Regions from separate parts of the Homo sapiens genome. Here region 1 is linked to region 2. The links come from fine-mapping of genetic effects on gene expression. A gene starts in region 2. The other region holds a variant in brackets. All regions are shown on one strand. Distances are between the middles of the regions.

Evidence for each region. PIP is the estimated chance that this variant, and not a neighbour inherited with it, causes the effect.
Region 1: its variant is fine-mapped to the expression of MTMR2 in lung (TOPMed, PIP 0.98).

Annotation. Positions count from the first base shown.
Region 1 is chr11:95,768,749-95,781,606 of GRCh38, reverse strand. FAM76B (family with sequence similarity 76 member B) reads left to right here. Exons shown (of 10, transcript NM_144664.5): 6 at 1,681-1,728; 7 at 1,920-2,000; 8 at 2,650-2,785; 9 at 5,584-5,685; 10 at 9,957-12,654. The coding sequence ends at 10,046. Among named protein-coding and RNA genes, the nearest start is that of FAM76B, 15 kb to the left of the region's middle. The variant C/T (reference allele first, on the strand shown) is at 7,747.
Region 2 is chr11:95,918,765-95,931,622 of GRCh38, reverse strand. It overlaps MTMR2 (myotubularin related protein 2), which reads left to right and starts at 7,516. Exons shown (of 15, transcript NM_016156.6): 1 at 7,516-7,748. The coding sequence starts at 7,669. RefSeq lists enhancers at 7,299-7,428, 7,489-7,538.

The DNA of each region.
Region 1 (12,858 bases), 150 kb after region 2:
TCCCTATTCTTTACAGATAAATTTGTCTTAGCATGATGTAAAAGGACACAATCAGATTATGTTTGTGAAGACTAAAGTATGTGACAGCAACTTAATTTTTTGAAAGAATGACAGGTTTCAAAAATAAAGGGAAAGAGAACAGTATTGAAAATGAAAGTCTTCAATTTTTTTACTTCTGGTTACTTATGAAATACAAACACTATTTTCTATTTGATGGCTGTTGACCATTTGATGAACAGTTACTTTGTAGGGTCCTATCTTAAGTTCAATAGATCAGAATGAAAATGAGGAGCATTCATATTGTGATAGATAGTGATCGGCAGGGGTAGGGGATGTGGTTGCCAGGTGGCACTAAGGTGGGTCTGAATCTAGGAATGGACAACCCTCAGAAAGATAAGATGGGAATTCCAAGTGTTTCTGTCAGTGATATTAATGTGATTATTCTTAACTTTGAGATATGGTTAGTGCTGTTAGTTCATGTATGGCTTGTTAGGCTTATAATGAAATTTGTGGGAAAAAAAAAAAAGGGACAACTGCATTCCTCAATAGGATTTCCATTCATTCACAAGTAAGAATAACTCACTTGATGGAATTATTGCTATTAACATTTTTTTCCCAACTTGGTACTTGTTTACAGCTGAGTCTTAAGGTTTGTTTTTTTCTTTTGCTTAAAAAACTTCTACAGCTGAACCAATAGTAAATTTTAGACACAAGTAAACATGTATATATATATATGTCTATTTTGTATATGCTAGCACTGTACTAAGTGATTTTACATATATAACTCATTTAATGCTCATATCAGTATAAGGTATGTATTACATATGAGGGAACTAAGGCTGGGGATGTTAAGTAATTTGCATAAGGTCACAGCTCAGGTATTCTAACATCTTCTAAATCGTATAAATACGTGGCATCTGGTTCATAGGAGATGCTCTCTACATGCTGAGTGAATAAGCTAGGGTTAGTGAAGCATTGACTGATATGCAAGTTTAGGAGGAAAAAAATGAAGGATTCATGATGAATTATAAAGTGATTATTAGTATTAGGGTAAAATAGAAAAGGAGTATTACAGTATTAATTATGAGTAAAAGTAAAATAATTTGTTACTATGAAATTTCTCAATAGTTTCAGCGTAACTTCTCCAGAATACTAACTAAAGAGAGCTCTATGGACTTTGGAGAGGATTCTTAAGAAAACTAGGAAAGAATCAAAGAAATCAATATATTTCCCCATTTAAATTGAAATACTATTCTGAGCAACTTGAGTTACTCCAAAAGAAGAATCTCTACTTCAGATTATTAGGAAAGCCTTAACTTTAAAGATACAAATTTTGTGTCTGAAATAGTAAGGGCAGCCAAAGTACAGTGATACCTAGACACAAGCACGAAAACTACTTGTGTAACCCACCCTTTGTATGATATTAAATTGAACTGTGGAGATCCTGATTATAAAGAATTCTTGAAGAACTTGAGATGGTTAGCAGTCATTTTATTAAAATTTATTTCATCAGAATGTGATTTATTCAATATGTATTAGCTTAGTCTGAAAACTTAAATATACCTTTCTCTGAAGAAAATATTATAAACATAAAATTTGTATCCATTGAGAAAGAATGTTAAATTTAGATGTATTAAATAAATAAATGTCATTATTAGATGTCATTTGTGTATTTTTCAGAATCAGCAATCTAAGTCCAGAAGAAGAGCAGGGACTGTGGAAACAGAGGTAAATACATTGCTGTATTTTCTGAAGTATTTTGAAATGTATATTTATAAATGTGATATCCCTTCAACTTTGTTACTTAAGTCTTACCAAAATCAGTATTTTCAGTAATATTTTAGGGGAAGATGAATAACTTATCATTTGGTTTCTCTGTCCTTTTTACTCTAACTATTCTTATTAATGTTTGGTTTCAGCCATAAATCCTCTGCAACAATTCAGAATGAAACTCCAAAGAAAAAGCCCAAATTGGAATCTAAGCCATCTAATGGAGATAGGTAAAAATGAATTCTTTTAGTGTTATGAAAATTCAACTTAGTTGAATAGTTATGGTTGAATGCCAGTTATTACTAGATAAAAAAATAGAAACATGTATTTTCTACATTGACTTGAGTCACCTAGAAGAATAAACATAAATTAGTTTAAAATTTTTAGCTTAATTTTGGCAATAAGAAAGTGGCACTGAACTATGTTGTTCTATTTGGGAAATAAATTTGGGTTTTGAAGAAACAAATTTGAATGGAGAACATTATTTTTATCTTTATTCTTCAGTGAAACACAAATCTAATTGTGATATTTTAAATTGACCTGCTTAGAAAATGTTTTTAGATTAAAAATATTATGAGCGTTACTTTGTTTTAGTTCATTAGCCAAAAGTTTGCTGATGTTACTGTACAAATTGGCTGCCTATTGCTTTACACTAGAAGTATTGACCCCCTTAAAGCTAATACTGAATTATATTTCTGCAGGTGTATGTAATGTGTGCCATTAGTAAGGTAATTTGCCAGTTGCATCCATTTCTGTCAGGTACATATTTTTTTGCATTAGCCTTAAGGATGTTTGTGGAATTGTCTAATTTATGCAATTTGAACACCTGCTAATTTTCCTTCTACTTCATTTAACTGTGTTTTACTTTTTTCTTTTTAGTAGCTCTATAAATCAGTCAGCAGATAGTGGGGGAACAGACAATTTTGTCCTTATAAGTCAATTGAAAGAAGAAGTGATGTCACTTAAGCGTCTCTTACAGCAGAGAGACCAGACCATTTTAGAAAAAGATAAAAAGGTAAGAACATGGTTCATTGAAGCCTGGTAAGAGTTATGTGTTGACTGTTGCTTGATAATCGCAAATTTTATTAGACTTCCTTTAATAATTTGGTAATGTTTGTTGTGCGTGATTTTTATAAGACAAATTACAAAAGCCCCTGAAGCCATCTAATGAAGATGGGTAAAAATGGTCTTTCAGATTTTTAGTTCTAAGAATTAACTGAGGCTTAATTAGGATAGTAATTTCCAAACTTTAATTTTCAGTAAGCATGTAATTTAAAAATAGATCTAATACCTAATTAAAAATGAGATGTAAATGGAATATTTCATAAACTTTTTTGATTTAAGAATGTAGTTTGAACAGTCTTTGATATAACATTCATATATTTGTATCAATCCAGTCATATATTTGTATCAATCCAGATCAAAATACTGCTGAAAAGTAATGGTATGGGAATTTCCTGTAGTAGTCAGTAATAGTAATTAGCAATAGATGTCTAAAAGCTCATTGTGTAGGAAGTAAGTGTACTTATTGGGACTTCATCAGTTAAATGAAGAGGAATATTAAAATGTGTTGTTCATTTAGTGAAAAGAGGAATATTAACAGAATTACAGAAGGATTTAAGGTCTTGTGCTATGAAATCAGGATGGCACAATAGTGGACAGGCATGGAACAGGAAACAGTTTTGAAGTAATTTAGCCATACTTAGATTCAAATCCTAGTTCTAACATTTTCTGTGTGACCTAAAGCAGAATGTGTGCTTCTTTGGACCTCAGTTTTCTCATTTAAATGAGAGCATTAATATTATCTGAAGTGATGGTTTTGATGATTAATGAAAATGCAAAGTATTTATTATAGCTCCTGGTATGTATAAGTGCCCATAGGGGCTATTACTGTTTGATCATCTTTTGTACTTGTTTTATGGTCCCAGACAATGTAGTTTGACCTGTATCAAATGTATTATGCAGTAGGAGAACACTAAAATCATTTCTTTTAAAAGAATAAGGCCTTAATATGAATACATATATGACTTATATCCATCTCTAAGTCTGTGCTGAGTTGGCTTTTACTTCTGGCATTCAGTAATTTTTGATACATTTTGCCACACCTTGATGGTTAGTGGGCTTAATTTATTTTAATACATTTGTAGCTTACTTTAAGCAAATTTAGTATATGAAAATTAGGAGTGACATATAAAATAGGATAGTTACGGGTGTCTTTGTCTTATGGTTCTTTTTGATTGACAGCATTTTTTAAATTAATGAGCCTTTATGGAAATTTGTCCTGTGTACAAAGTTTTAGAGACAGGCCAGATATATCTGCATTAGCCTTGAGAAAAGTTGAATAAAATGCCAACTTTACTGCAAAATAGCAATGATTTCAAAACCAAGTAGTAATCAGTTATAGAATATTGACTGCTAGATTTTTCTTTCCTCTCTAGCATAAGAGGTACTATCTTTGTATTGTGCAGTTAATTGAAGTTTTCTGCTTTTGTTAGTGTTCCTCTTTAAAAAAATCACAACACTAATGGGGATTGAAATTAGCATTGTTGTAAGGAAAATCCTAATGGTAAACCTAAAATAACTATACATTTGCAACTTTTTCTTATAAATCTAAGATGATGAAGTTATTTTACTGAATTGATTTCACAAAGTTATTTAATGATTTCTAGAGCCAGACACTGAACTAGATCATGAGGATACAAAGATGAATAAATAAGACATAATTCTTATTTTCCAGAAGTTCATAGTGAGGAGGCAACTCACAGTGTAGTGAATAGAGTAATTGTCTTAGCTGATCTGGTGTATGTTGGCATTTCAGAACAGAAAATCTTTTGTGATTAGAGAAAGTTAGAGAGAGAGAACTTAGTTATACTTTGAATTTGACAAAAGCAAGGGTTTTTTTTTTTAATAAGACTATAAGACTCCATGATTTTCTCTATTTTTGCTGTTGTATGTCTTTCAGTTTATTAGATACTGGGTAATTACAAAGGAGAATGTGTAAACCTTTAAAGCTGGCATAATGAAAAACATTAAAAAATAACCTGGAGTTCCCTCTGCATGGTTCTAATAGTGAAATTACATAATAACTTATTTAGTTTGAAGTCATGAGATATTATACTGTTAGGTATGTCATTTATGAAAAATTATCATGTAGCCTTCTTCCTCAAAGCACTGATTTTTTTCTTGTATTTGTCTAATTTAGCCCAAATTTTATAGTAACCTTCTTTCCTTTCTCATTCTGTGTTAGTTGTATTTCTGTGCTTTGTTCTCTATTTTTACCTCAAGTGTTAGGTGGTATTGTGTACATAATCCTGGACATAAATTAAAAAATGAAAACAGTGTAGCTTTTGGCTGAAAAGACCATTCCTTTTTATATTACCCAGTGTGAAATTTCTTTCTTTAAGCATTGAAAGATTATTTTACGCATAAGCTAGTTTAAATGTTTATATTGTTTTTACTATTATTGAAGTACATTTTTAAATGAGGCATTTTCCCAGTTATTAGCCGTTAAGCTTTTTTCGTTGGCATACCAGTTGCCAAACTCTATTTCCAGTCGAGCCATGTTTAGGAAAAAAAGAAAACTGAGAAGTTTTACTGATGGTCAGGTATTAACATTAAAATTATACTATTGTGAAGCAGATAGACTTCATCATTTCACCAAACAAACTTTAGATAGCTTGTACAATTCAGGAAACTGCAGTTAACATCTTCTACTTTTGTAATGAAATGTGAGTTTATTGTGAAAGTTATTTAAAATGGTGTGTGTGTGTATGTGTGCAAATATATACATATATTTTTTCTTTAATCTCTCAGTTAACTGAACTAAAGGCAGACTTTCAGTACCAAGAGTCAAATTTGAGAACAAAAATGAACAGTATGGAAAAAGCCCACAAAGAAACTGTGGAACAACTTCAGGTAACTACCATCATTTACGTAAAATGATAGGCAAGAAGGGCTAAACTTGAGTAATAGCATTCATTGACTTAGATTGTTATTGGTAGCCCTATTTTGTGCATAGTTGGTGCATTTCAGTTTTGATTTTGACTTTATAATCATTTTTAATCTTGATCTCATTAGAAGTTATTGTTTGAAATTACTTGAAAGGGGGATTCAGTACTTTAATCTTGAAAACTTTTGCCTAAACTTCAAATGGAGTTTTTGGAGGAGGGTATCATTGGAGTGTGTTCAATTAATTATTGGGCTTATAGCAAAAAATTAAAAATCAGATTAATGAAACTAAGGTGAAAAGCAGGTCTTCAGTAGCAATCATTCCTCACATTAATATTTCCTTCCAGATAATGGGAAAGGAGATGGGTGTATAAAACCAATTCTTAAGGACCTGGAGTGGCAAAAATGTGTGCAAAGCAAGAGAGTTTACTTAACCTGTGTACAGTGGTTCGCAAAGTGCCAAATAGGGTTCTGCTAAATGCTAACAGGTAGTGATCCACCTGAACCTCAGAGTACTGCAAAGTAGCAGTTTAAGTATACAGAACAACTGAATGGTAAAGTCAAGAGTCACCACAGTAATAATCTGATGTCTGGCATGCAGAGATGGTGAACATCCAACATGGATACAGAATGCTACCATATTAAGCTGCTTCTCTTCTAGGTTTCATACATTTAGAAATCAGACCACACTAAATTAATTACATGTTCTCTTTGATTTATACAGTCTCACATTTGTAAAATTAGTCTTTAGTAACAAAATTTTTAAGGTGAAAGAAGTTTTAAATGTTAATGGAAGATGGCAGCACACAGACGTCAGACTTGGGAGAGTACAGCTTCAGAAGGAAGGAGTTAATACTGTCCTGTTTCATTTTGTTTTTTTTTTTTCACATTGTAACACCAAAGGATATTTGCTATTTCTTTCTTTTGGTTTTGTATTATTCATACTTCTTTGCAAGTAGCTTAAATTAGTAGGATTTAGGAACTTGCTCAAATTCGAGGTACAGATTATCTGGTCTTAATCCCTATCATACTATTACAAAGACTGTTGAAAAAGGAACCTCATGTAGAACCTGAGACATAGTAGGCATTCAAATAATTTGTTGACTAGGTGGTGATTTATGGAAATGCCCATCAGCCCTCTGTTCTGAGAGATTGCCCGTATCATATATCAGATTCTTATATATTAGTCAATGTTTTTATCCACCAGCAAGTATTATTTTTAATTTTATGTTATTCCTGTTTTTCTTACTCAGTTATTAATGCTGAATGATTACCTGGAACAAAATCTTCCACCTGGTGATCTTTGATTTAATGTAATGTAACCAAAGCTCTGAAGTAAATCCAGAATGAGATAACAGAATAACTGCAATAGGTGCTCAGATATGTTTTAACTTAGTGCTCCCCACTGTTCAAAAGAGCAGTTTGTGTGTTGGTTTTTCTTTTTTAAAATCATAGTTGCAAATACATGGGGTCATCTTTGACTTAGCCTGATAGATATCTTAGGCCTACCTCCTCTTGGTAATTGAAGTTTCATGTAGTATAAAAGTAACCAATATTTAAATAGGACATTTTGACATGATTTTACATATGCTGTCTTACTTGTTGCAAAAACTGGGTTATGTGATATGCCCATTTTACAGAGGAAACTGTGATCACACAGTAAGCGGTGACGTAGAAATCTCTGTCTTCTCACTCCAGTTTATCTATACTTTTCCCTGTCCTACACTAGTTCCCACCACTTCAGGTTCCTCAGGTTTTCTATTTCATCCTTCCTATCAGGCCACTTCCCTGATTTTTTTGTGTTATGGCTAGAGACAATCTGTCATAGCTGAGTGCCATCTTTTTACCTCACTTCCTTTAGCAACCAAGTGATACTAGTAGGATTCTTTACTGAGGTGAGGAAACCGGTAATTTTTTTTTTATCTTTATGTAATAAGGAATTGAATCCTGTGACACAAGATGGATCTTGCTCTAATAGCTAGTAAAATATTTTTAACTGCCAAACCTACGACAAAACACTGAACATCA[C/T]ATGAAAAAATTGTTCAAAATGTCACCCCAAAATACCCCAAATATTGAAAATACTAAGAATATCAAGTTAAAACTCTTATTCACTTAATTAGGTAAGTGGTTAAAAGGAAAAGGGACCTAACATTTGAGTGCCTTCTGTGTACCAGGAACTGTGTTAGGCTAAGTGTTTTATATATTTGATAAGTTCCTTCAACTCATTTTGAGTTCGGATGGTGGAGTTTGTGTTACAAATGAGAAAATATGCTCCAGGTTATGTAGCTGGTAAGTAAGCCAGGATTTAAAGCAGGATCTATGTAATTCTTAATCCTGATATTCTTTCCTTTGCACCAACATGTCTAAACTTTAAAACTTAGCTTTCTTAAGAGTCTGTAAAGAATTTCATTGATTTTTTTTTTTTTTTTTGGCTGGCTGCAAAATGAAGTAATTTTAGGATAAAACAATTTAAATGTACATATATTGAAATATGGCATAAAATTCATTTTTAAAGTATTCAAATTAGAATAATTTGGACTTGTACTTAACAATTGTGTTATTTATTTACCATAAAGACTTTTGTCTTATGTAATTTATTAAGAAATATCTTTATTAGTGATATAAATATATTAAAAGCAAATTGGAAATTAGCTACCAAAGCATTAAATGGAAAAATTGCTTTGAAGACCTAATGTTCAAATTATTGTATTTTGTACTTAAAATATGAAAATTATAAACACTTTATTTCTTGATAATTGAGATAAGAACTTGGAGATTCACATTTTAACTATTTTGTATCAGTATAAACATTTTTAGATAAATATAACTTAACAGATCTAGTGGAGATCTTTTTGAGTCAAATTTGCAGACTCAAAATTTGAAATTGATACTGAATTTGAAATTGAAGTTTTTCGTTACCACCTTAGTTATTAATAACCACTGAATAGGAAAGTTCTATTGATCATGCATCTGAACATAAAAAATTATTTGATTTGCACATATAAGATAGTACTGAGAATATTTGCATTTTAGAGGTCATGGGTGTTAATTAGCAAGAGTGATTGGAGAAGAAGGGTGGGGGAATGGAAGAATAAAGTTTGAAAAAGGTTATTTCATGAAACCACTTTAAGATGGCATACAGAGAAGGCAGAGTGTTATCTGCCCGTAAAAAGCTAAAATTAGAATAAAATATGAAGTACTGAGATTAAAAAAGTCTGTCTATATAATAAAAATTCCTGGAACCTGTGAAGGAAAATGGTGTTGAAACATAAGTCAGAGGATATCTTTTTAAAATGTGTTAATTTTAGGGCAGTGCTCTATTTTCATCACTTTCCCCATTTTGGCTCAAACTACAAAAATGCTTGATCATTAATGTATTTGTATATATAGGGATCCTTACTATCTAAGTTTTCATATTTAAGAGACTGAATAAGGTGACAAAGGCAGTCAAAATGTGAAAATATTCACTGTACTTACACATTCCTCTTCACTAAACTAGTGATGGATGGACATTTAATAATGAAATTCAAGTCAGATGATGAAATGAAATTTTGAATCTTTGTAAAAATTCAAGCTTTCATGAGATAGGAAATGATGATGTGGAACTGCTCAAACCACACTAAAATCAGTGTCAGATGACTGGTAACTAAAGGAACAACAAGATAATGAGTGGTTCTGATGGGTGCTTTAAAAAAAATTGAATATCATTGGGTGCATTTGGCAAAGTAACAAATTCTGAGTTGTTTTTGCAAAAATGACCTCTTATGCTTGTTCTACAAGAGAGTAAACATAGAAAAAAGACCTTATACAGCTTGCCAGGAAATACTCCTCCCAAATCTTGATTCATTCTTTGATTTTATTAATTGTAAATTACAACTTATTTTCATAGTTTTCATGTTTTTAAGATGAAGGGCCAAACACCTTTTCCCTATTAAAATTTGGACCTTCTTTTAAGTGGATTCACTTTGTTTCCTTTTTTGTAACCAATTGTGCATCTTTGGACACAATTATATTAATAATGACATATACAAAGGGGGCTGATGAGCCAATCTAGAATTTTCCTTCTGCATGTTCATCCTTAAAGAGATGAATGTAAAGGTATCAACTCTTTCATTTAATGTTAGTGCTTTAGTGAAACATTTATATAAATGAAAACAGTATTAAATAAGTAGTATTCTTCAGCATGACTTAATAATATTTCAAACATTTTTAATCTTGAATGTTTTTGTCTCCCACAGGCCAAAAACAGAGAACTACTCAAACAGGTCGCAGCATTATCAAAGGGTAAAAAATTTGACAAAAGTGGAAGCATACTAACATCTCCTTGAGAAAGTCATTTGTTTAGCATTTCTTCTTACAATGTAAATTTGGGGAAAAAAAATTCTGTGAAGCCCTTAAATTCTGTGTAGTAGAAAAATATTTTTGCACACCAAATGAATTGGTGTGTTTCCTGTTCACTTTTGTAATTGATATACAGCATTTTTTAAGTTGTAAAACATTCAAATAAAACTTCAACTGGTTTGAAGTAACTTTTTAATTATTTGATATCCAGGAACTTTTTTGCCAGCAATAGTATTAAACAGTTGTAAAGGAGTGCATGAGTAGTGCTCTTTATGAAACGCAACATGCAATAATAGAGTAGGTATGGTTTCAGAAGTCAGAGCAGCAGGGTTTTTTTGTTTTGTTTTTGTTTTACACTATGCTAATTTCAGACAAACAGTTTTCAATTTAGAAATACAAAAACTTTTAAACTCGAAAAATGGCGAACACTGGTTTTTTGGGAATTGTGTTTTTACTTTGCATCAAGATGAATTTAGGAGAAAATCACGGTGCTTTTATTAAATGAACTTCAGATATATGTAAATTTGTTTTTTAAAGTTACATCATTAACATTAGTAACCTAGCATTTTCATTATTGGTATAGGAATTAATGTTTATTGTACAGTATCTAAGGTAAAATGTGTTTCTGTTTTGTAAAAACTACTGTAGATTTTTACTTACAAGTGCCTTTTTGCCACCTAATGTTTTTATTTATAGGAATGCTGATCTTTTGTACATACATTTTGTTTTAAAATCATGTTTAATAAATGTTTGTATATAAATGCATATGTACAGAAGCCTATTTCAAAAGGAAATCAAAGTTGCTAGTAAAATGTTTGAGATTACATTTAGAACTAACTGATAATGCATATAGATTGTAGAAAATTTTGTGATTTGTTTCTGTGTGATAAGGGAAGCTGTTGGTCTTTGAATTCATTTAATTATGTCAAAATAGTTCCCCAAAGATTTAATTTTAAGTTGCTTCTTAAAGAGTAATTTTATTTTTTATGTCATGTGGCTTCATATTAGTATTGTGTGAGTTACATGTTTTGCTTTATATTTTATAAAATTTTTTAAAAATTTTAATGTTTCTGCAATGATCCATGTATCTGCTTTCCCTATGTGTGGTTATCTAAGTTAATATTTATGTACAATGTAATTTGTAAATTTAAAGCAAATCTGAAAAAAATTAAATGATCTTTTTAATCCAATCTGTGATAATCTTTGAATAAATTGGAATCTACTATAAGATTCAGGCATTATAAGTAAATTGTCCTAAAGTCTTTAAAATTGTCTATAAAAGGTTAAGGTAGGGTGGGATAGGTTATATGAAGTTATTGACTATATTCTGATCCAGCGGTTTTCAGCCTGAAATAGAATTTATCTCCTAGTTATTATCAGTTCAGAGTTTTAGTTTGATTTTAAAGTATTGCTAGATACACTGTATAGAGTGAGTTGCTTCTCTTAATAATTTATGGGCAAAGATAAATTTGCTTCATGTAAAACTGTTACTAAATTTATAAGTTTTAAAGGTTTTGTTTTATACAAGCATTGATTGTGAATGTCATATCAAAGATTGGCTTTCTTAAGAACACATGATTGAAACAATTTTTTTTTAACATGACGTGTTTCAATAGACTGTTCTCATAGTTCATTATAAAGTGAATACCAAATAATTCTTTGTCCATTTTGAAAGCATAATATAGGGTAATTTTCAAGTGATACAAAAAGATTCAGTTAGAATCTTGTAAACTAAACCAGTTTATTTTTATGGGATCTTCATGTAATAATTTTCTTAAATTTAGTACTCTCAACCATGATAGATAATGCCTTAACATGGATTTTAACGTTTGCAGGATTTGCTAAATTCATAAGATAGTTATTACCTTTCTTTGAAATTTGTAATGTTTTATATTCTTGTTTCATAGCCATTTGTCAGTCCACAGTGGTCATTATGGTTTTACTTTTTGATAGTTCTTACACCTTGTTGGAGAAACTACAAAAGAAAGTTGTCCTCGTCCTTCCCCTTAGCTAACATCAAAATTAAAAAGTTGAATATTAATATTAGCTAACATTAAAATGGAAGGTAATTCAGTTTTAGTGTTAGCTAACATTAACAGTCTAATAATTTAGCTTTGTAAATTCCAAGGCTAAAACCCTTTCATGGGCTTCACAGTATTTAGTCCTAATTAAATACCCTTCTTTATTCCATGACCTTATTTTATAACTTAAATTTTTTTGCAATTGTATAAATTAGTAATTCAGTCCCAGTCCTGGATCTCTGTAGTGTTTTGACATAATAAACTGATATTCTTTAAATGTGGACCTGTAAGGAGATACTATGGTGTGGTGTATTGTGCTTTTAGCCTGTTTTCCACTATTAATTAGCATTTACCAGTAAGGGTCATTTTGACTCAAGTTATTTATGTATTAATAGCCTGTGAATATTGCAGTCCTTTTTAGATTATATTGGTCTAAATATGCATTCTGCAGTGAACCTGTTAAGCTGTTCACATGTATAGACTATTGAAATACTGTACTTGTACACATCTGACTGTTGACATTTTGTACTTTTTTCTAGATCCAATATTTCACAATAAAAAACTTGTCAAAGGCTTTGTATTAGTTTTCAATGGCTGCTGTAACAAACTCCCACACACTTAGTGTCTTAATACAACAAAAATTAATTCTTTTATGGTTCTGGAGGCCAGAAGTCCAAAATCAGGTTTACTGGTCTAAAGTCAAGGTATTGGCAGGATTGCTTCTTTCTGGAGGCTGTAGGGGAAAATCTGTTTTCTTGCCTTTTCCAGCTTCTAGAGC
Region 2 (12,858 bases):
ATTTAATTCACAATGTCAGAGGTGGGCCTGGTGGGAGGTGTTTGGGTCATGGGGGTAGATCCCTCATGGGTTGGTGCTGTCCTTGTGACAGTGAATAAGTTCTCATGAAATCTGATTGTTTGAAAGTGTAGGCACCTCCCCACTACTCTCCCTGTTGCTCCCATTTTTGTCATATGAGACACCTGCTCCCCCTTCACTTCCTGCCACAAGTAAAAACTCCCTGAGGTCTCCCCAGAAGTGAAGCAGATACAGACAACATGATTCCTATACAGCCTGCAGAACTGTGAGTCAATTAAACCTTTTTTCTTTATAAATTATCCAGTCTCAGATATTTCTTTATAGCAATGCAATAACAGCCTAATACAGCTTTCTTTACTTTTCTTCCTTTTTTTCTTTTAGTTTTTCTGACTCAGTGGTTTCAAATGACCTGTCTTTGAGTTCACTGATTATTTCTTCTGCCTGATCAAGCTTGCTGTTGAATTCCTTTAATGAATTTTTCAGTTCATTTGTGTTTTCCAGTTCCAGAAATTTCGTCCTTTTTAAAATAGCTTCTATCACTTTGTTGATATTCACATTTTGTTAATGTGTTGTTTTGTGATTCATCTATTGGTATTCTCTTTAAGCTCATTGAACATCTTTATTTTTTAACATGTTATTTATTTTTTTGAGATGGAGTTTCATTCTTGTTGCCCAGGCTGAAGTGCAATGGTGCAATCTTGGCTCACTGCAACCTCTGCCTCCCAGGTTCAAGCCGTTCTCCTGCCTCAGCCTCCCAAGTAGCTGGGATTACAGGCATGTGCCACTACACCTGGCTAATTTGTTGTATTTAGTAGAGACAGAGTTTTACCATGTTGGTCAGGCTGGTCTTGAACTCCTGACCTCAGGTGATCTGCCCATCTCGGCCTCCCAGAGTGCTTAGATTACTGGCATGAGCCAATGTGCCTGGCCTCATTGAGCATCTTTATAACAGTTATTTTAAATTCTTTTTCGGGCAGTTCATAAATCTGAATTTCTTTAGGGCTTGTTTCTGGAATTGTATTTATTTCTTTGGTTGGGCCATGTTTTACCCTTTCTTTGTATGACATGTAACTTTTTTGACAGGATTTGAAAAAAAAAAAAAAAAAAACACCTCTCCCAGTCTTTGTGTACTAGTTTTGTGCAAGAGAGGACTTTTACTAATCACCTGGGCTGGAAGTTCTATGACCTCCAAGATATTTTCTGATCTCCTGCTTCTTTTGGTGTCTGCCTGTAGAAATGGGGCTATAATAAGCTGCTCTCCTTTATTATAGGCTCCAAGCTCTGGTATCAATACCATCAGTGCTCAGAGTCTGGCAAGACCAAAACCAGTCCCTTGGGCAGCCCCAGAAAAGCCAAAACATTTTATTTAAAGTCCCCTTTTCTGCTTTCATCCACAGGAAAAAGCCCTGATAAGAAGTGTGGAGTGTTCCCCCCACCCATTCCTTCATGATATGCCATCTAGGGAAAGGACGATAAACAGGTATGCCAAATGCCATAAGTTTTTCTACCTCTTTCTCTAGAATACTTTCTTGGTTTAACATGCTTTAACTTCTCACACAGATTGTCCTGTACTTTTTTTTTTTCTTTCTTTCTTAGACAGGGTCTCATTCTGTCACCCAGGATGGAGTGCAGTGGCTTAATCACGGCTCATTGCAGCATTGACCTCCTGGGCTCAAGGGATCCTGCCATCACAGCCTCCCAAGTAGCTGGGACTACAGGCACATGCCACCACACCCACCTAGCTTTTGTATATTTTGAAGAGATGGGGTTTCACCATGTTGCCCAGGCTGGACTCAAACTCTTGGGCTTAAGCGATCCGCCCATTTTAGGCCCCCAAATTCTGGGGTTACAGGGGTGAGTCATTGTGCCCAGCTTGTACATTGTTTTAAAGTCATCATCTGTGTGGCCAGAAGAGCCTGCATCTTCCTAGTCTGGCGTCTTGTTGACATCACCCTATTTTAAGTAATATTTCATTTAGGATTTCACTTGTGTTTATAAATGTTCACAAAGGAAAGGCCTATGGGAAACAGACCTCATAAAATTGATTCAGCAGCTTTATTTTTCTGTTCCTTAATTTCTTCAAAATCTGTTAGACTTTATCCATAAAAATATTTGAGGGAGAGGTTTTTGATTTTTTTTAACTTCTATTTTTTTCTGTTTCTTATTTAGCAAATTTTGGCATGTCTCTGTTTCAAAATATTTATTTATTTAAGATTATAAGCGTTTGGTGTAAAGATGTCCATAAAATTATTCTATGATGTTCAATCTATTTTAATTATATCTTCTTGGTCATTCAATGTTTATTATTTTCATTTTCTCTCTTCTTTTCATTTTGATATATAATATTTGTACATATCTATGGGGCACATGTGATATTTTGTTGCATGCACAGAATATGTAATGACCAAGTCAGAGTATTTAGGGAATCCATCACCTTGAGTATTTATTATTTCTATGTGTTGAGAACATTTCAAGTCCTCTGCTTTAGCTATTTTGAAATATACTGTACATTCTTGTTAACTATAGACATCATATTCTGTTATTGAATGTTAGAACTTTTTTTTTTTTTGAGATGAAGTCTCATTCTATCATCCAGGCTGGAGTGCAGTGGTGCAATCTTGGCTTACGCAACTGCCTCCCGGGTTCAAGCAATTCTCCTGCCTCTGCCTCCTGAGTAGCTGGGATTACAGGTGCCTGCCACCACATCTGACTAATCTTCGTATTTTTAGTGGAGATGGGATTTCACCATTTTCGCCAGGCTGGTCTTGAACTCCTGACCTCAAGTGATCCACCCGCCTTGTCCTCCCAAAGCGATAAAATTACATGACCCACTGCGCCCAGTCTATAACTTATTTCTTCTATCTAACTGTATCTTTGTACTCAATAACCAACCTCTCCTCATCCTTCCTCTACACACCCTTCCTAGCCTCTGGTGTCCTTCATTCTACTCTCTACTTCCATGAGATTGACTTTTTGAGCTCCCATGTATGAGAGATAACACATGACTTTTGTCTTTCTGTGCCTAGCTTATTTCACTTTACATAATGACCTGTAATTCTATTTATGTTGCTGCTAATGACATGATTTCATTCTTTTTTTATATTTCATTGCGTATATATATTTTCTTTATTCATTCGACCATTGATGGGCATGTAGGTTGGTTCCATATCTTCGTTACTGTGAATAGTGCTGCAAAATAAACATGGGGTGCAGGTATCTTTTTGATAACTAATTTCTTTTCCTTTGAATAAATACCCAGTAATGGGTATGCTGGATCATACGGTAGTTCTATTTTTAGTTTTTTTCAGAAATCTCCAGACTATTTTCCATACTGGCCGTACTAATTTACATTCCCACCAACAGAGTATAATAGTTCCCTTTTCTCCACATCCTCACCAGCATCTGTTATTTTTTGTCTCTTTGATAACAGTCATTCTGACTGGGATAAGGTGATATCTCACTGTGGTTTTGACTTACATTGTCCTGATAATTAGTGATGTTGAGCATTTTTTCATATACCTTTTGGCTATTCTTGTGTCTTCCTTTGAGAAACATCTGTTTATGTCCTTTGCCCTTTGTTTCTTTGAGACGAAGTCTCACTCTGTCTCCCAGGCTGAAGTGCAGTGGCGTGATCTAGGCTCACTGCAACCTTGGCCTCCTGGGTTCAAGCGATTCTCCTGCCTCAGTCTCCAGAAGCTGGGATTACAGGCACCCATAACCACACCCAGCTATTTTATTTTTATTTTTATTTTTGGTAGAGATGGGTTTTTGCCATGTTGGCCAGTCTGGTCTCGAACCCCTGACCTTAGGCGATCCACCCACCACAGCCTCCCAAAGTGCTGGGATTACAGGTGTGAGCCACCTCACCTGGCCCTTTGCCTTTTTATTTGAGATGGAGTCTCACTCTGTCATCCAGGCTGGAGTGCAGTGGTATGATCTTGGCTCACTGCAACCTCTGCCTCCTGGGTGCAAGCAATTCTCCTGCCTCAGCCTCCTGAGTAGCTGGGATTACAGGCACATGCCACCATGCCCACCTAATTTTTATATTTTTTAGTAGAGATGGGGTTTCATCATTTTGGCCAGGCTGGTCTCGAACTCCTGACCTCAAGTGATCTGCCCACCTCAGCCTCCCAAAGTGCTGGGATTACAGGCATGAGCCACACGCTTAGCCTGCCTATTTTTTAATGGGATTTTTTTCTTTTTTTTTTTTTTTACTGTTCAGATATTTTAGTTCATTATATATTCTAAATATTACTCCCTTGTCAGATAAATAGTTTGCAAATATTCTCTGCCATTCAACAAGTTGTCTCTTCACCTTGTAGATTGTTTCCTTTACTGTGCAGAAGCTTTTTACTTTAATATAGTCCCATTTGTCTATTTGTGTTTTTGTTACTTGTGCTTTTGAGGTTTTAGCTGTAAAATCATTGCCTAAAGTCCTGAAGTAGTTCCCTTGTATTTTATTGTAGTTATTTTACAGCTTTGGGTGTTACATTTTAGTCTTTAATCCATCTTAAGTTGATTTGTGTATGTGGTAAGATACAGGGGTCCAGTTTTATTCTTCTGAATATGGATATCCAATATTTCTAGCACCATTTATTGAAGAGATTGTCCTTTCCCCAGTGTGTTTTCTTGATGTCTGTCCAAAATCAGTTGGCTGTAAATGCATGTGTTTATTTCTGGATTCTCTCTTATGTTCCTTTGGTATGTGTGTTTGTTTTTATACCATACGCTGCTGTTGGTATAGCCTTATGTTTATTTATATTTTGAAGTCAGATAGTCTGATGCCTCCAGCTTTGTTCTTTTTGCTCAGGATTGCTTTGGCTATTCAGGCTCTTTTTTAGTTTCATGTGAATTTTAGAATTTTTCTTCTTTTTTTGTGAAAAATGACACTGATATTTTGATAGACATTGAATTTGTAGATTGCTTTGGGTAGTATGGTTATTTTAACAATGTTAATTGTTCTGTTCCATGAGCATGAAATGTCTTTCCATTTATTTGCATCTTCTTCAATTTCCTTTATCAGAGTTTTATAGTTTTTCTTGTAGAGGTCTTTCATTTCCTTGGTTAAACTTATTCCTGGTTTTTGTTTGTTTGTTTTTGTTTTGCAGTTTTTGTAAATGGGATTGCCTTCTTGATTTCTTTTTTGGCCATTATAGATGCATAGAAATGCAAACTAATTTTGGATGTGGATTTTGTATTCTGCAACTTTATTAATTTATGAGATCTCAATGGTTTTTTGGTGTAGTACCCATACATGAACTGTTGTCAGTCTATGATGAGATCAACGCAATATTGAGAATAAGTGTTTAGGAACTTTCACGAAACTTTCAAGGAGTAATATCTGTTAAATCTAATAAACAATTTGGCCTTGTATTTTGCAAACCTTTTTCTTTAATTTTCCTAGTGCAGTTATCCCTTAGTATCTGCAGGTTATTGGTTTCAGGACCCCCAAGGATAGTAAAAGCTAAAGATGCTCAAGTCTCTTAAATAAAATGGCATTAGTGTCTACATATAACCTATGCATACCCTCCTGTATACTTTAAATCAACTCTAGATTACTTATAATATCTAATACAATGTAAATGTTATGTAAATAGTTGTTATACTGTATTGTCTTCTATTTGTATTATTTTGTTTTTTACAATTTTTACAAATTTTTCAATCTGTGGTTGGTTGAATCTGAGGATATGGAACCAACTGTGATTAATTTTTCTTATATTTTAAAAAAGTTTTGGTTGGTGATGGTTTGAAAATTAAAAACAAAACACTGTTCCTTCTTGCAGATAGTTTGAGAAAAAACAGCCCAGATTATAAATTGAAAAATTAATAACTTTTGGTGAGGTCCCAAGTTAACCATGTTTTTTCATTTTCTTAGAGTTCATTAATTAATTAGAGTTCACTAATTAATTTCCAGCTGATATTCTTTGCTTGTGTTTTCACTCTGAGAAGTTACCATTTTACCAGTCAGGTTAGAAGTCAAGCAGTAAGTTCAGTGGAAAAACAAGTAATAATAAATCTACTTAGTGAGACCGTACTGTGCAACCGACTCTGCACAGAGAAAAACAACCTATTACGTAGATATTTTTATTCCCATTTTATTCCCATTTTAGAGATGTGAAACAACTTAACCACAGCACAGAGCAAGTGTAGAGACAGAACCGGGATTCCGATGAAGATCTGTCTGGTTCCAAAGTCTCTACACTTTTACTACACTGTTCTTTATTAATCACTAGATAGAACCATACACATATTGTTACATCAGGCAGAAGGTTTCGAGGGTTCTATTAACAAAGTGCTACGAATGAACTGGGTGGAAGAAAGTACATAGGTCTCCCATTCAAGGGTTCATCAGCCTTCACTAAGGAAATTTAAGTCAAAGTAGCTGACAGTGAGTCAGCATTTTGGAAGGCAGGTAGAGATGGTGAAGAAATAAGGAAATTCTTCTATGAGTCATGATAGATATTTAAGCTTGTTAAAAAATGTTTTTGACTACCTACTCCCTTTGCCTACAGAGTCCAGTTAAGGTATCTTAAAAATTATGGAAATAAAAACAATCGGTCGCTGTCTGTCCTCGCCAAACTCAAAAAAGGCTAAGCCTTTTGTGCTTAAACACATACTCATCAGTAACTATTCTACCTTACACTGAACATAACTAAGCTAGGTTGTTCTTCTTGGGAATGTACTTGCAAGTTAATACTGCACTGCAACTATAAGGTTTTTTAAAAGACATCAGTTGTACATTATAAATTAAATCTAGTTTAAATCAATATAATTCAATTTATCCTAGCAAGGAAGTTTTTTAAGGATGGTCTGATTTTTTTTTTACAGGAATAATCTTTGCATAATTTTACACCCCATACATGAGATGATTAGGATTCAATCTCAATCAGAAAAATCCCTTTATGGTGTCCTTATGGCTTTCCTGTATCCTAACAGAAAAATCCTAGCAGAAGCATTTCCCCTTTACCCAGTTCCTGTTCTCTTATCACAGTTCTATTCCTCCACACTCCCTTCCTGCTAGGCACGGGAATTTGAAAGGGCAGGGAAAAATCGGTGAAAGTTTGTCTTCTACTTGGGTAATCCAACACCACCGCATCCAGTAGTATATAATTCTTTTTGCATGTATATCAGATCCTCCCCAATCCCTCTCCCATACCTCTTTCTCACTTTTCTCTCATTATCCGGTCCTCTTGTTTTCCTTGACCCCCACATTCCTGTCTAAATCATCCTCCTGGCCTCAGGTCCTTATCGCCTTCCTGAGACCCTCATGTTTAGTGTTCCCTCATTCCTCTTACACCTAGGATTTCTCCTCCTTCCATAAGGGTCTGGTCCTTCATCCCTCCCGCTTCACCAGACCCCCTCACCCTGGGAGCCGCCACCTCCCTTTCCCCAAGACCAGATGTCGCGCGGCCGGACACAGCCAGCACGGAGAGTCGATGCCGGCGTCTGAGCTGCGCAGTGGGGTCTTCCCGCTGCCCAGCAGCCTACAGGCGCGGTGCACTCTGGGGGAACATGGCCGCTTCCGGTCTCCCTCCCGGGCCGGCGCTGGCCTGACTGCGGCCCCGGTCCGTAGCACTCCGCCCTCCGCTTCTCCCGCCCTGTAGCCGCGAAGACTGCTTCAGCCTTTCCCTGTGCTGCCCCTGCCGCGCGATGGAGAAGAGCTCGAGCTGCGAGAGTCTTGGCTCCCAGCCGGCGGCGGCTCGGCCGCCCAGCGTGGACTCCTTGTCCAGGTAACCAGGACGCCCAGGGCCCCGCCCAGCGTCCGAAGGGGATGGAGAGGGGCCGGGGACCTGCTGGATTGTTGCCCCAATTCGCGGATTCTGGTTTCTGAAGGCTACGCCGGAATTCCTTCCCCGGGACTTGGGAACCACTTCTGCCTCCCTCCCTGGGGCGTGGAGGCTGAGGAAAAGGAGGTTAAAACTCGCTGCTTCTTTATCGATTCCTCTACCTTTCATATTCCGATCTCGTTTTCTCCCCGATGGAGGTGGTCCCAGTTAATTACTTTCTCCTGTCTTTCATTCCCTCTCAAACCTTTTTTAAGACAGTTCCCCCCGCCCCCATTCTTTTCCCCACATTTCCTGTCTTTCTCTGTCACTTTTTCCAAAACCATCCTAAAGTCAGTCTTTCCTCCTCCACCCCTTCTTATGTCTTTGGTTTTTGGGTTCTTGCCCAGCCCTTTTCTCTCTTTTCATGGCTTCACCTTCTTAATTTCTTTCATGCTTTTCTCTACACTCTGATTTTCTTCTCGCCTCCCTTTTTGCTTAAATATGTAAATAAAAATGTCTCCTGTGCTTCTCTTTTCTAAATCTTCCAGCTGAAAGTCAGTATCAAGGAATCTGAGTGGTTTTTATCCCCAGTGATAGGTTTAAGAAAACAAAATGAGTGGTAGTTTTCTTCCTTCTTGGGCTACTGGTTCTCCACGTTGTCATTTCTCTTGTAACAGATGGGAATTTTATCCTGGAATTTTGAGGAGGACTTTATGCAGCTTTGCAGAGAGCTTTTATGAATATTAACTAGACGCGTTTTGGATGCAGTCTTTTTCTTTGATTTTAAAATAATGATTTAAAAATTTTTTAAAAAATAATATAAGACCTGTATTTGCTTTTTATGCAGCCACGATGAAATCTGGTTCTTTTCCACTGAATAATAGTCTAATTGTTATTAGAGAGTGATTCGATAACTGCTGTGTGAAAACACACAATTTTCATTTTCTCCTTCAATCAGTTGAAGTGGCTCTATTATAATTCATTTTGGATTCTGCTAAATATGGGTAGTTATTGCCTTTTTTCCTGTTGATGTTCAGCACCTCACTGGGGAACCACTGTCTGATCCCGTCATTCTACATTGCCATATGCACTCATAGCTCCCTGCACAGTCGTTTTTCAGAGTCTTTAATAAGCACACTATAATTGTTGGCTTAAAGTGCCTTTTCTACCAGGTTATAAGCTATTATACTTGAGGGCAATCTTAATCATCTTCATATCTCCAGCACTTAACATAGTCTCAGCATGTGATAGGTGCTCACTAAATGGTTTTTTTTTTTTCGAATTTGTAGCCTGAATTATCCAGGAAAGGAGGATTTTTCTTTGCAGTTTGATTATATATATTGCACGTTTGAATCAAGTATTTTTTGAATTCTGTATTTATTGCTTTGAAATTTGGAAAGCTGAGGATTAACATGTTCAGTTGTGTAATTCATTCAGAAAACAGGTTGGAAAATTCGAATTTTATGGGAAAGTTACAAATGACAACTATGCCTCAGAATAGCATAAGAGGCAACCAGTACTCTCATCCAAGGCAGAGAAGTTAGAACCACATGAAGCAGCACAGTATGTTAGAAAGAAGGAAGTACTGGAAGTTAGGAAGCTCCCATGCTGAAGTCTCTGGCTGAGCTAGCTCTTTGGTCTTTTCATTTAGACTTTCTAGTCTACAGTTTTCTCATCTTTTAAAATAAGAAGCTTGATCTAGAAAATCTGTAAGGTCCCTTGGAACTCTAACATTGTCATTTTTAAAATTTTAATGACAATACTAAGATGAATGCATTGATATTAATTTTAAAGATAATTCCTTTGCAAATAACCTTTGTTTTGGATTTTTGCAATTACACGAAATAAGTGTCCTTTATTATTACAAACTAATATACCTAACGGTGCCACTTGAACATATTTATTTCCTAAAACAGAAAGCCCAGCAAGTATAAAGATTATATATGTATATGAACTTCTCTATAAAAAATTATGTTACTGACAAATTTGAGAAAATTAAGTACTCCTCGAGAGAATTGTGATATAGTAGATTAGCCTAATCCTCTCTGGACAAAAATATAAGTATGATTCCTATTTTCCATAAGAGAATGCCAGCTTTCATTACTCTCCTCTGGAAGGTAGAAAAGTAACATTTACTTAATGTCTACTGTATGGAAGTTTCCCTGCTAAATTCTATGTATCTTTTATTTCATTAATCATCATACCTGTTTGTGGCACTCTCCTTAATCAACAGTATGTAATAGATACATTATAGACACTAGTTAGAAAGCTTAATTTTAAACAATCTAGGCTAACACTTCATCGCAGGTGACTCTAATACATTGCCAGTGTGGCCTGCTTTGGTCTCATAGCTATGTTAAGTGTCTATCTAGATTGTTTAAGTTATTTCTTTTGTTTCATTAGCCTTTGACAAAGCAAAATTATTGCTGTTTGGCCTATATTATCTCAGTTTTTGCAGAAATGATTCCCTTAAATTGTAGTTTATTTTTATGCTTTCTGTTTTTATACAGAGGCCTAATTGGGAAACTGCCTTTGGAATTTGTTTTGATATCTCTGGCAGAATAATAGTTAATATTGTTAAATGTGTCACAGAATGTTTTTCACACATGCATTAACATAAATTTCTGCTGAGTTTAGCTACAAAGAAAATTATTTATAGAAAAAATTATGTATGCTCCTTGTTTGTTAGTAAGTGGTAACTATATAACTGCGTCTTTCTCTTTAGCTTAGTAAAACTTTAGTCAAATTTATATCTGAAGGTGGTAATATACTCATCTCTAATTTCTTTAAGTACTTTTATTATTACATGAACTCAAGTTAAATATTATGTGTTATGTTTAAATGTATTGATTAGATGTCTGAAGCCCTTTTGGGAAGTAGGAAGGATGATACACTAATCCATGTGGTTGCCCATTGTTTTTTGAAAATGACATACTTGGCCGAGTGCCATGGCTCATGCCTGTAATCTCAGCACTTGGGAGGCCAAGGTGGGAGGATCACTTGAGCCTAGGGGTTTGAGACCAGCCTGGGCAACATAGTGAGGCCCCATCTCTAAAAAAGAAAGACTTTTTAAAATAAGTAAAAATATTTTAAAAAATGAAAATGACATACTCCATTGAAGTTGGATTACAGGCTGTTGTGCAATCTGTAGTTCACAATAAACATGTGATGAGTCTTACTAAGTATCTGTAGTCATTTCAGAGTTCTCTTGTCTCCAGTTATGCCTTCTAGGTCATCATAGATCTGATGCTTTTGCCCACAAAAGGGCAATTTCATTCTTCATATGATATCCAGGTAGTAGTTTCCTAACCAGCTATAGTTATGTCATCCTGCATCTTTAAAAAAAAAAAAAAAAAAGTAATCGTCAGCTGGGCGTGGTGGCACGCACCTGTAACCCTAACTACTTGGGAGGCTGAGGTACCAGAATTACTTGAACCTGGGAGGCCAAGGTTGCAGTGAGCCAAGAACGCACCACTGCACTCCAGAGTGGGCAATAGAGTGAGACTCCATCTCAAACAAAAACAAAAAAAACAATAGTTGTCTTTGGTGAGTCCTGCTTAATATTGCCATACTTCAGTAAACTGTTCAGCAACTCTTGTATATCTTGCTGTTGGCCATTCTTCATGTATATCTATCCCCACAGAAAGAGAGAGGGAGTTGTGGAAAACTTCACTTTAGCATCCTAATAATCTAGTTATATTCTGTAATTTTACTTTTGTTGGGTGTGCTCTGATTCTTGATATAAGTATGACTTTATAAGATATAGGTAAAATAATACTGTAGGTCAGATGTGATAATAAGAGTAGGCTTGAGTCTCAGAACTGTAATGAGTTACACAGCAGAATTTGACATTATATTGGTAATAATCTGCCATCTTAGTCTGGTTTTCCATTTTTCAGTTTATACACTATTATAAAATGCACTGCTTTAGTGGGTTTCTTTGATTAGTTTGTATTGTGCATAATCAAATGGTAAGATATCTAGTGCCGAATAGGTGCTGAGTGAACATCTAAATAAAAGAATGTTGACGGAATGTTCACCACTGGTCTTGTTTGTTGTTCCCATTCAAAGGATTAAAAAGGATTCCTTCTGTTGAATTTGGCCTGAACACTTGCAATTTCAGGTCTAAGCTGAAGTTATTTTTATGGGAGACTGGACATCTTGAGCTGATTTTACTGTTCTGTGCCCAGTCCTACACACAATGAGGTTATTATGTCCTCTTCAACTACCTATTTATCCATCTGCTACTCTTGATTACTTTTGCCCCTTTTGCTCTAACTTGTGTTGTTAGTCGTTTTAATTAATGTGTGTTCTTGTCATCCTTCATATAACCTCAGGCTTTAGTTATTCTGGGTACCATACTTGTTTATCCCAGATTATTTGGTTTTATCAATTTGTAGTATATAATTTCATTAGCATTGATGAGCATCTTATATTTACATTTAACTTCCATTAAAAAAATCAAAGGGGGGGTACACATACTCAAAGTAGTTCTCAACTAATTGCATTTATAAATTGCATGCCTGCCTTAAAATTATCATCATTTGAAAACAGGAATTCCTAGATTTCTGTTTCCATGGATTTTGATTATACTTATAGCCTGAAGAAGTAGAGGAGTTTCCTAGATTTCTAAAACACATTTTGTTGCAAGGTCTCATCTTTAGTTTTAGCCTCAAGGTCACTTAAGAGTGACGTGTTGGAGGCCAGGTGCAGTAGCTAACGCCTGTAATCCTAGCAGTTTAGGAGGCTGAACAGTTTGGGATTGCTTGAGTCCAGAAATTCCAGACCAGCCAGGGTCACATGGCAGAACACTGTCTCTGCAAAAAATAAAAAGTTAGCTGGGCATGGTAGTGCATGCCTGTAGTCCCAGATACTTGGGAGGCTGGTGTGAGAGGATCACCTGAGCCTGGGAACGTTGAGGCTGCAGTGGGTTGTGATAGTGCCACTGTATTCTGGCCTGGGCAAGACAGTGAGACCCCGTCTCAAGAAAAAAAAGTGATATGTTGGTAGGAAATATGCTTTTATGTTGTTTTTCTAGTAGTGGTGATGGATTTGTGTACAATCACACATTTTT